2 linked regions of the Homo sapiens genome follow. The protein of the gene in region 1 interacts with the protein of each later gene in a pairwise test. Each region holds a gene or a part of one and is shown on either strand. Other genes may lie near its edges. The genes, in order: FHOD1 and BBS4.

What was found.
Region 2: the proteins of FHOD1 (region 1) and BBS4 interact in a two-hybrid assay, tested with the Homo sapiens proteins (one study listed by BioGRID and IntAct).

What each region holds. Positions count from the first base shown.
Region 1 is NC_000016.10:67,237,403-67,241,217, reverse strand, and holds part of FHOD1 (FH1/FH2 domain-containing protein 1), read left to right. Parts: intron 1-1,763; coding exon 1,764-1,870; intron 1,871-2,250; coding exon 2,251-2,315; intron 2,316-2,332; exon of another isoform or gene 2,333-2,405; intron 2,406-2,770; coding exon 2,771-2,838; intron 2,839-2,910; coding exon 2,911-3,016; intron 3,017-3,089; coding exon 3,090-3,184; intron 3,185-3,449; coding exon 3,450-3,561; intron 3,562-3,648; coding exon 3,649-3,743; intron 3,744-3,815. UniProt on the Homo sapiens protein: Required for the assembly of F-actin structures, such as stress fibers. Depends on the Rho-ROCK cascade for its activity. Contributes to the coordination of microtubules with actin fibers and plays a role in cell elongation.
Region 2 is NC_000015.10:72,713,514-72,717,328, forward strand, and holds part of BBS4 (BBSome complex member BBS4), read left to right. Parts: intron 1-1,777; coding exon 1,778-1,889; intron 1,890-3,264; coding exon 3,265-3,337; intron 3,338-3,815.

The sequences.
Region 1 (3,815 bases):
ACCCTGGGGAGGGCAGGCAGCCAGGCAGGAAGTGGGACAGAGAACAGGCTGGAGTGTTTGTCCTATGTCCCAGGTCCCAGGCGGGGGTGGGCGGGGGGGGGGGTCATCCAAGGGCCCCACAGGCTAAACTGTGGGGAAGGAGCCAGGTCAGGCTCTGAGGCAGGCGCAAGGGTTGCTAAACAGAGGTAGGGGTTGAGGCAGGAGCTGGACTCCCTTTTTCTCCAGGGGACCAAGGCCAGTTGGAAGCCCTTGGGCAGGGTCCAGAAGAGGGCAGGGCTGACCAAACAGCAGGACAAATGTTGGAATTGACATGCCCAGTAAGATGGAGACCAGAAGACACCCTGCCTCTCCAGAGGTGGGCTCTCCCTGGGCCAAGGCATCTCAAGGGCCAGAGCCACTTAAGTCAAGGAGACTTTGCTGAACCTGCATATCTGCACTGTGCAATGGAGGGAGGTGTCTGGGAGAGGTAGAGTGCCACCCTCCGACTCACAGGAGTCACCTCCCTCAGGCTTCTCTACAGGCACTTCTCAAGGGGCTAAGTGCCATGCCTTGTGGCGGGGGAGGAGAGCCCGGGGAGGGAAACATGGACACGTGGATGGAGCATGTGCCTGCTTGTTACAAAGGCAGGCTTTGGGGTCCTACTGTAGACTGAGTCAGACTCTTAAGTGTTTTGTTTTGTTTTGTTTTTTGAGACAGAGTCTCACTCTGTCTCCCAGGCTAGAGTGCAATGACATGATCTCGGCTCACTGCAATGTCTGCCTCCTGGATTCAAGCAATTCTCCTGCCTCAGCCTCCCCAGCAGTAGCTGGGATTACAGGCACCCGCCATCATGCCTGGCTAATTTTTGCATTTTTGTAGAGACGGGGTTTCACCACGTTGGCCAGGCTGGTCTAGAACTCCTGACCTTAGGCGATCCACCCTCCTCAGCCTCCCAAAGTGCTGAGATTACAGGCGTGAGCCACCACGCCTGGCCTAAAGTTAGTTTTTTAATAGGCCCCTTGGGTGTCTCTGAGGTCCAGCTAGGACCATTGTAACTGTAGCCCACTTTGGGAGAGGCCAAAGACCCTGAAATCTGGTGGGACTGGGAAGTCTATGGATCAGACCCTGTCTTCACCCTCTTACTCACTGAGACACACACACACACAGACACACTCTCCCGGGTGGGTTTGCACCTCCCAGCCATCTTAACACTTTCTTTCTGGGGCTTAATGCTTTGTGACTATAGCTTATCACCCCACAGGGCTGTGAGCTTCCTCGAAGGCAGGAACTTCCTCCCATCTTCTCTCCATTCCCCTTCCTCATCTGTGTTTATTAGCTCAACAAGTCCTAGTGAGTGCTTACTGTGTGTCAGGTGCTATGCCAGGCTCTATAGATACAGCAGGGAGCAAGACAGACGGAGTGCCTGAACGCAGAGAACGCAGCTAGAGGAGACCAGTGGCTCGGATATTAGAATGCTGTGTGGAAGGTCTCGAAAGGGAGCATACACACAGGGTGGAGTGGGTTGCATAGCAACCTAAAGAATAGGTAGGTATCAGCCAGGAGAGGAGATGGTACAAACAAAGGCCAAGAAAGCCTGGTGCCTGACACAGATGGGCTTTGCACATAGTAGGTGCTTGAGAAGCAACTGCTGAAGGAATGCACAGCTGTAGTGCAGACCCTGTGTCTCTCTGCCACCCTTCAAGTGGTAGGTAAGAGGTCAGGGGTCTTCATACATTCGCCTGCCACCTCTTCCTCAGTCTCACAGCTGTTCCCTTTGCCCCCAGTTGGAGGATTGTGCTCTGCAAGTGTCTCCCTCCGGATACTACCTGGACACCGAGCTGTCCCTGGAAGAGCAGCGGGAGATGCTGGAGGGCTTCTATGAAGAGATCAGGTCAGAACTGATGGGGCCAGGGAGGCAAGGTTACCCCCACCCTTGCCAGGGGCTAGCTCAAATGTCAGCAGCTGAGACACTCGATCACTAGCCTGAGCCATGGGTCACCTCCTGCCCCAGGGAAGTGTGCCAGGGGAATTCTAAAGCCTGGCCAGTGTTACCTGCTGCCCAAGGTGGGAGTTAGGGGCTCTCCCACATACCTGAGATACATGTGTTTGCACCAACCCTCTTGTCCGACCAACCCTTGGGTTCTTGGAGGAGCAGCTGGGAGGAACAAGCTGGGCTGGGGCTGGCATGGGGAGGTCTTTGGCTCCCTTGGCTTGTGGGGAGGAATGCTGAGGGATAGGCTGGGAGCTGCTAACAGAGATCCTTGATTCCAGCAAAGGGCGGAAGCCCACGCTGATCCTTCGGACCCAGCTCTCTGTGAGGGTCAACGCTATCTTGGGTGAGTGTGTGAGAGCATCCATGTCCAGCAGCACCTCCTCCCCATAGCCCAGTTGGCTCACCTTCAGGCCTGTGCTGAACAGTGAGCAAAGTAGGTTTAGCTGTATGTGCTCCTTCCTCTCCCTATCCTGACCTCTTCTTCCAGGGCCATGGTGGGAGTGGAGGGGGATTCAAGAATGTTAGAATAGACCAGGCGTGGTAGCTCATGCCTCCAATGCCAGTGCTTTGAGAGGTCAAGGTGGGAGAATTGCTTGAGGCTAGGAGTTTGAGGTTGCAGTGAGCTATGACTGTGCCACTGCACTCCACACTCCAGCCTGAGTGACAGAGTGAGACCCTGTCTCTCAGACCAAAACATATATATTAGACTATTCTTTGGTGGAGAGTTGTGGTTGTATCCAAGCAGAGGAAGACAGTGAGTCTGTGTCCATCAAGGGTTTTATACCCTACCTTTTGCAGAAAAGCTGTATAGCTCCAGTGGTCCTGAGCTCCGCCGCTCCCTCTTCTCACTGAAGCAGATCTTCCAGGTGAGGCCCCGCAGTGGGCTGGGGGTAAGTGTGTAGCCCAAGCTTCCCTAAACTCCCCCATGGTGCCTCTAGGAGGACAAAGACCTGGTGCCTGAATTTGTGCATTCAGAGGGGCTGAGCTGCCTGATCCGTGTGGGTGCTGCTGCCGACCACAACTACCAGAGCTACATCCTTAGAGGTCAGCCCCGCCCCTCTCCCATGACCTCTGCTCCAGCGACCCTCGCTGACTCTGCCCATCCCTGTTTCCCCAGCGCTCGGCCAGCTGATGCTCTTTGTGGATGGAATGCTGGGGGTGGTGGCCCACAGTGACACTATTCAGTGGCTGTACACATTGTGTGCCAGCCTGGTAAGTGGCTCTCCACTCAGCCTTATACCCTTTGCCTGTTGCTTCTCTCTGGGCCTCAGTTTCCTGTTCTGCAAAGTGAGCTGGAAGGGAGTGAGTCTGAGGCCTCTGTAAGCCTATAAGGCACTTCAGTGCCTGGGCCTGGGGCCAGGGTCATTCTGCCTAGATTCTCTCTGGGTCCAGCCCCAGCAGCCCTTCCCCTTCCCCAGCAACAGCTGGCACAGGTCTGGCCTAAGCCCCACTCATATGTACTGACCTCTCTCCTCAGTCCCGCTTGGTGGTGAAGACAGCCCTGAAGCTGCTGTTGGTGTTTGTAGAATACTCCGAAAACAACGCACCGCTGTTCATCCGTGCAGTGAACTCTGTGGCCAGCACCACCGGTCAGAGACTGTCCCTTTCTCCCCCCACCGCTCAGAGCCCTCTCTCCTACCTGTTCCCCCATGACTGCTCCACTTTCTGTGTGGCAGGTGCTCCTCCCTGGGCCAATCTGGTGTCCATCCTGGAGGAGAAGAATGGCGCTGACCCTGAGTTGTTGGTGTACACGGTCACCCTCATCAACAAGGTGTGGCCAAGGACTGGGTGCCAGCTCTGGGATGCTCAGGCTCCTGACCTCCCCACCAACCTCAGCCTTGCC
Region 2 (3,815 bases), on another chromosome or scaffold:
CCTGAGGCAGTTATTCTTTTTTTTAGTAAGTGGAAGGAGTACACTCTAAAATAAAGATTAAAATGTATAGCGTAGTAAATACATAAACCAGTAATGTAGTCATTTATTATCAAGTATTAAGTTCTATATATATGTAATTGTATATGCTGTACTTCTATGTGACTGGCAGCACAGTAGGTTTGTTTATACCAGCATCACTACAGATAGGTAAGTAATGCATTGCACTGTTTTGATTGCTATGACGTCACTGGGCAATAGGAATTTTTCCTCTTCATTATAATCTTAAGTGATCATCATCATTTATACAGCTGTCGACCAAAATGTCATTACAGGTGCATGAGTTTAAATGTTCCAGAAAGGTTTTATTCAGTATTAATCTTTTTATGGAATCTGAATATAATTACTGTGTTGGATTTGACTTCAGAAATGACTAGTAATGTTAAAAAATTGCTATGATTACCCATTTTTTAGTTTCTGGCTAGTGTTTTTTGGAATGGATGCTTAGGATTCCTGCCTAATGCAGTGATTTCAGGGCCAAAAGATGCTTTTGGAAGGATTGCTTGTAATCAAGCTAAAAGAGATGAAGAAGAGCTTGAGGATTTCTGTAAGGTGAATCAGGATGAGGGGAAGAAGCCTGGAAATAAACAAGATAAAGCAGAGCATAAATTCAGCTCATTAGAAACCAAAGATAAGGACCACTCACTTACTTTTTTTTTTTTTTTTTTTTTTTGAGACAGAGTCTTGCTCTGTTGCCCAGGCTGGAGTGCAGTGGTGCGATCCCAGCTCACTGCAACCTCTGCCTTCCAGGTTCAAGCGATCCTCCTGCCTCAGCCCCCCTATTAGCTGGGATTACAGGCACATGCCACCATGTCCAGCTAGTTTTTGTATTTTTAGTAGAGACAAGGTTTTGCCATATTGGCCAGGCTGGTCTCGAACTCCTGACCTCAGGTGATCCACCTGCCTTGGCCTACCAAAGTGCTGGGATTACAGGCATGAACCACTGCACCTGGCCCACTGACTTAAATTTTCCTCTTTAGTGGCATAAGTAGCATTCTTAGTTTTTCCAGGAACTTTCTTTTTGACTCTTGGGTGTAAATAAATGGTTTTGTTTACCATTCATTGCATTTGTAGTCTTCAGATTAACATATAATTTTCTGACATAATTGTTAAGATATTGACAAATTTAGGACATCATGGCAAAAAATGCTCTTATTCCCAGTGTCACAAGTATCAGACTTTCAGTGCCTGATAAATTCTTCTGGAAACATAGGCCTAGGAAAAACCTCTGGTTCTAATTGGTTGTTACACTGACAACTGAAGTCTTAAATGTTACTTTATCCTTTGCCAGAATCTCCATGTTGAATTTGAGGTATTGATTCCATTTGCCCCATTTGGGGGTTCGCTCTGAAAACTATCAGTTGGAAGTAAATTATGATAAATGAAGCATCTGATGGGGAAGCCCCAAAATGTTGTTAATGTGAAGAGTTTGTGTGATAATTTGCAAAGGAACTGATTATCTATGTGATGGATCCTGGGAGTAGAGAGAGAAGTAGGTAGGTTTGAGCTACCTTGCTAAAAGACAGTTGAGCTTGTCAGCAGTTTTGGTTGTTGTTTCAGCCTGTCCAAAGCCATATCTGATTGTTTTAAGGATACAGTTGTCCAAAGGATTTACTTGATGTGGTTTCCCAGTTTTCTCTTCTCCAATTTTTCTGACCCCAGGCTCCATTCTTCCCAGAACATGGTTTTACTTTTTTTTGTATTTTCTGTTTCTTGGCAGCATTGATATTTCGCCTAGAAGGAAATATCCAAGAATCCCTAGAACTCTTCCAGACATGTGCAGTTCTTAGTCCTCAGAGTGCTGATAACCTCAAGCAGGTGGCCAGATCTTTGTGAGTATTGGCAACCTGGAGGCCCTAGGGCACTCACAGAGAACAGTGTAAAATGCATTCCTAGGTCCAGCCTGCTGCTGGCAGCTGCATCAGCCTGATACACAAGTGGGGGAATGGTTTAATAGGTACAGTGGGATTCACTCTGAAGAGCATGGATTAAGTTTGAAATTTGAGAAAATGAGATAACTAGTGTTAAGGAACTAAGCATTTTAAACACTGTGCATTCTAGTTTGATGGGGGACCAATATTGTTTATCATGTAAATAGAGACACCTTGTACCCTAAGTCTTCTAAACTTATTGGCAATCCTTGGAATTTTTCTCATCTACTCTTCTAACACTTAGTATTTGTCACACAGTAAGTTTTTAGTAAGGACAGAGAGTTCCTGACTTCTGATGGTTCAACTTACATAATTTTTCAACTTTACAATGATGTAAAATTGTTATGTATTCAGTAGAAACTGTACTTCAAGTATCCATACAGCCATTCCGTTTTTCATTTTCAGTATAGTATTCAGTAAATTACATGAGATATTCAGCATTTTATTATAAAGTTGGCATTGTGTTAGATGGTTTTGCCTAACTGTCAGCAAATGTAGTTAAGAAAGTGGAGATAGGAACTCCATGGAACAGAGTAAGTGTTCTGAGCATGCTTAAGATAGGCTAGGCTATCTATGATGTCTGGTAGAGTAGATGTATTACATGCATTTTTGAATTACAGTGTTTTCAATTTACAATGGGTTTACTGGGATGTAACCCCATCATAAGTTGAGGAGCATCTCTATTTGTTGAGTGAATGTCCTAAAGATTCCTAGATGGAAAGAATCTCAAGTGTTTATAAACTACTAGGTACTCCCTTTTCAGTCCTTTGTTCCATGGAGTTCCTATCTCCCCTTTCTTAGCCACATTGCCATTCATACCTGTGTTGTTTTTGCATAGAGCTTGGTTTTCCCTGTTTCTCTCTAAACTCAGGATCCAATATCAAGGAAAGAGACTTAGTCTTGGAAGGAAAGGATGTGTCCCTAATGGGTGATGATAAATGATGGTAGTTACTGCTTAACATGGTATATCATTAGGCTTATTTCTTTTTTGGTCTGCATTTATAGTACATTGTAGAAGAAAAATTCCACAAGACTCTCACTAAAATTGGTATAGAATGAGACCAAGGCCTTGGAACAGCTGCCAGTGCAATCCCTACTAAGAGAGCTTCTGCTGTTAGTGTATAGCAGCTTCACTGACCAAACCAGCACAACCACCTCATAGAGAAAAGGCTTCTAGAATTCTCTGCTGGATGAAATATGATTAAAATGTGGGACTAGTAGGGTTAGTCTTCTAAGAATTTTGAGGTAATAATTATGGAAAATATATCTTTTACAGATTTCTTTTGGGAAAACATAAAGCTGCCATTGAAGTATATAATGAAGCAGCTAAACTCAACCAGAAAGATTGGGTAAGTAGAGAACTTTCAGTTCTTTCTTATTAGTAAACTTGCTAATGGTTCCATTTATCATCTGGCTGTCTTATTTCTGAATTCTTACATTCCAAAAATGTCTTGATTTTAACCTCATACTTAATTCATGATTTGTATAAGTATAGGATCAAAAACCATGTTTCCTCATAACTTTGCAGGCATTGCTGCATGATTTTCTAGCAGTTTGCTGACGAGCAGTCTCTTACCAGTCTGATTCTTGTTGATGACCCCTAGAAGCTTTGGGTATTTTTTTCGTCATTGGAATTCCACAGTATCAGCAATAGGCATCTAGTTGTGTTTCATGTCTTTTTCCCGTCCCCATCTGTGTGACATTCAATTGACTCTTTCATTCTGAAGACCCTTGCCTTTCTTTGGGTCAGGGCCTTTGAGTAGTTCTTTATTTTTCCCCTCCCCTTCTCTTTGTGTCAATTGAGGATTGTGTGTAAATGCAACAGAA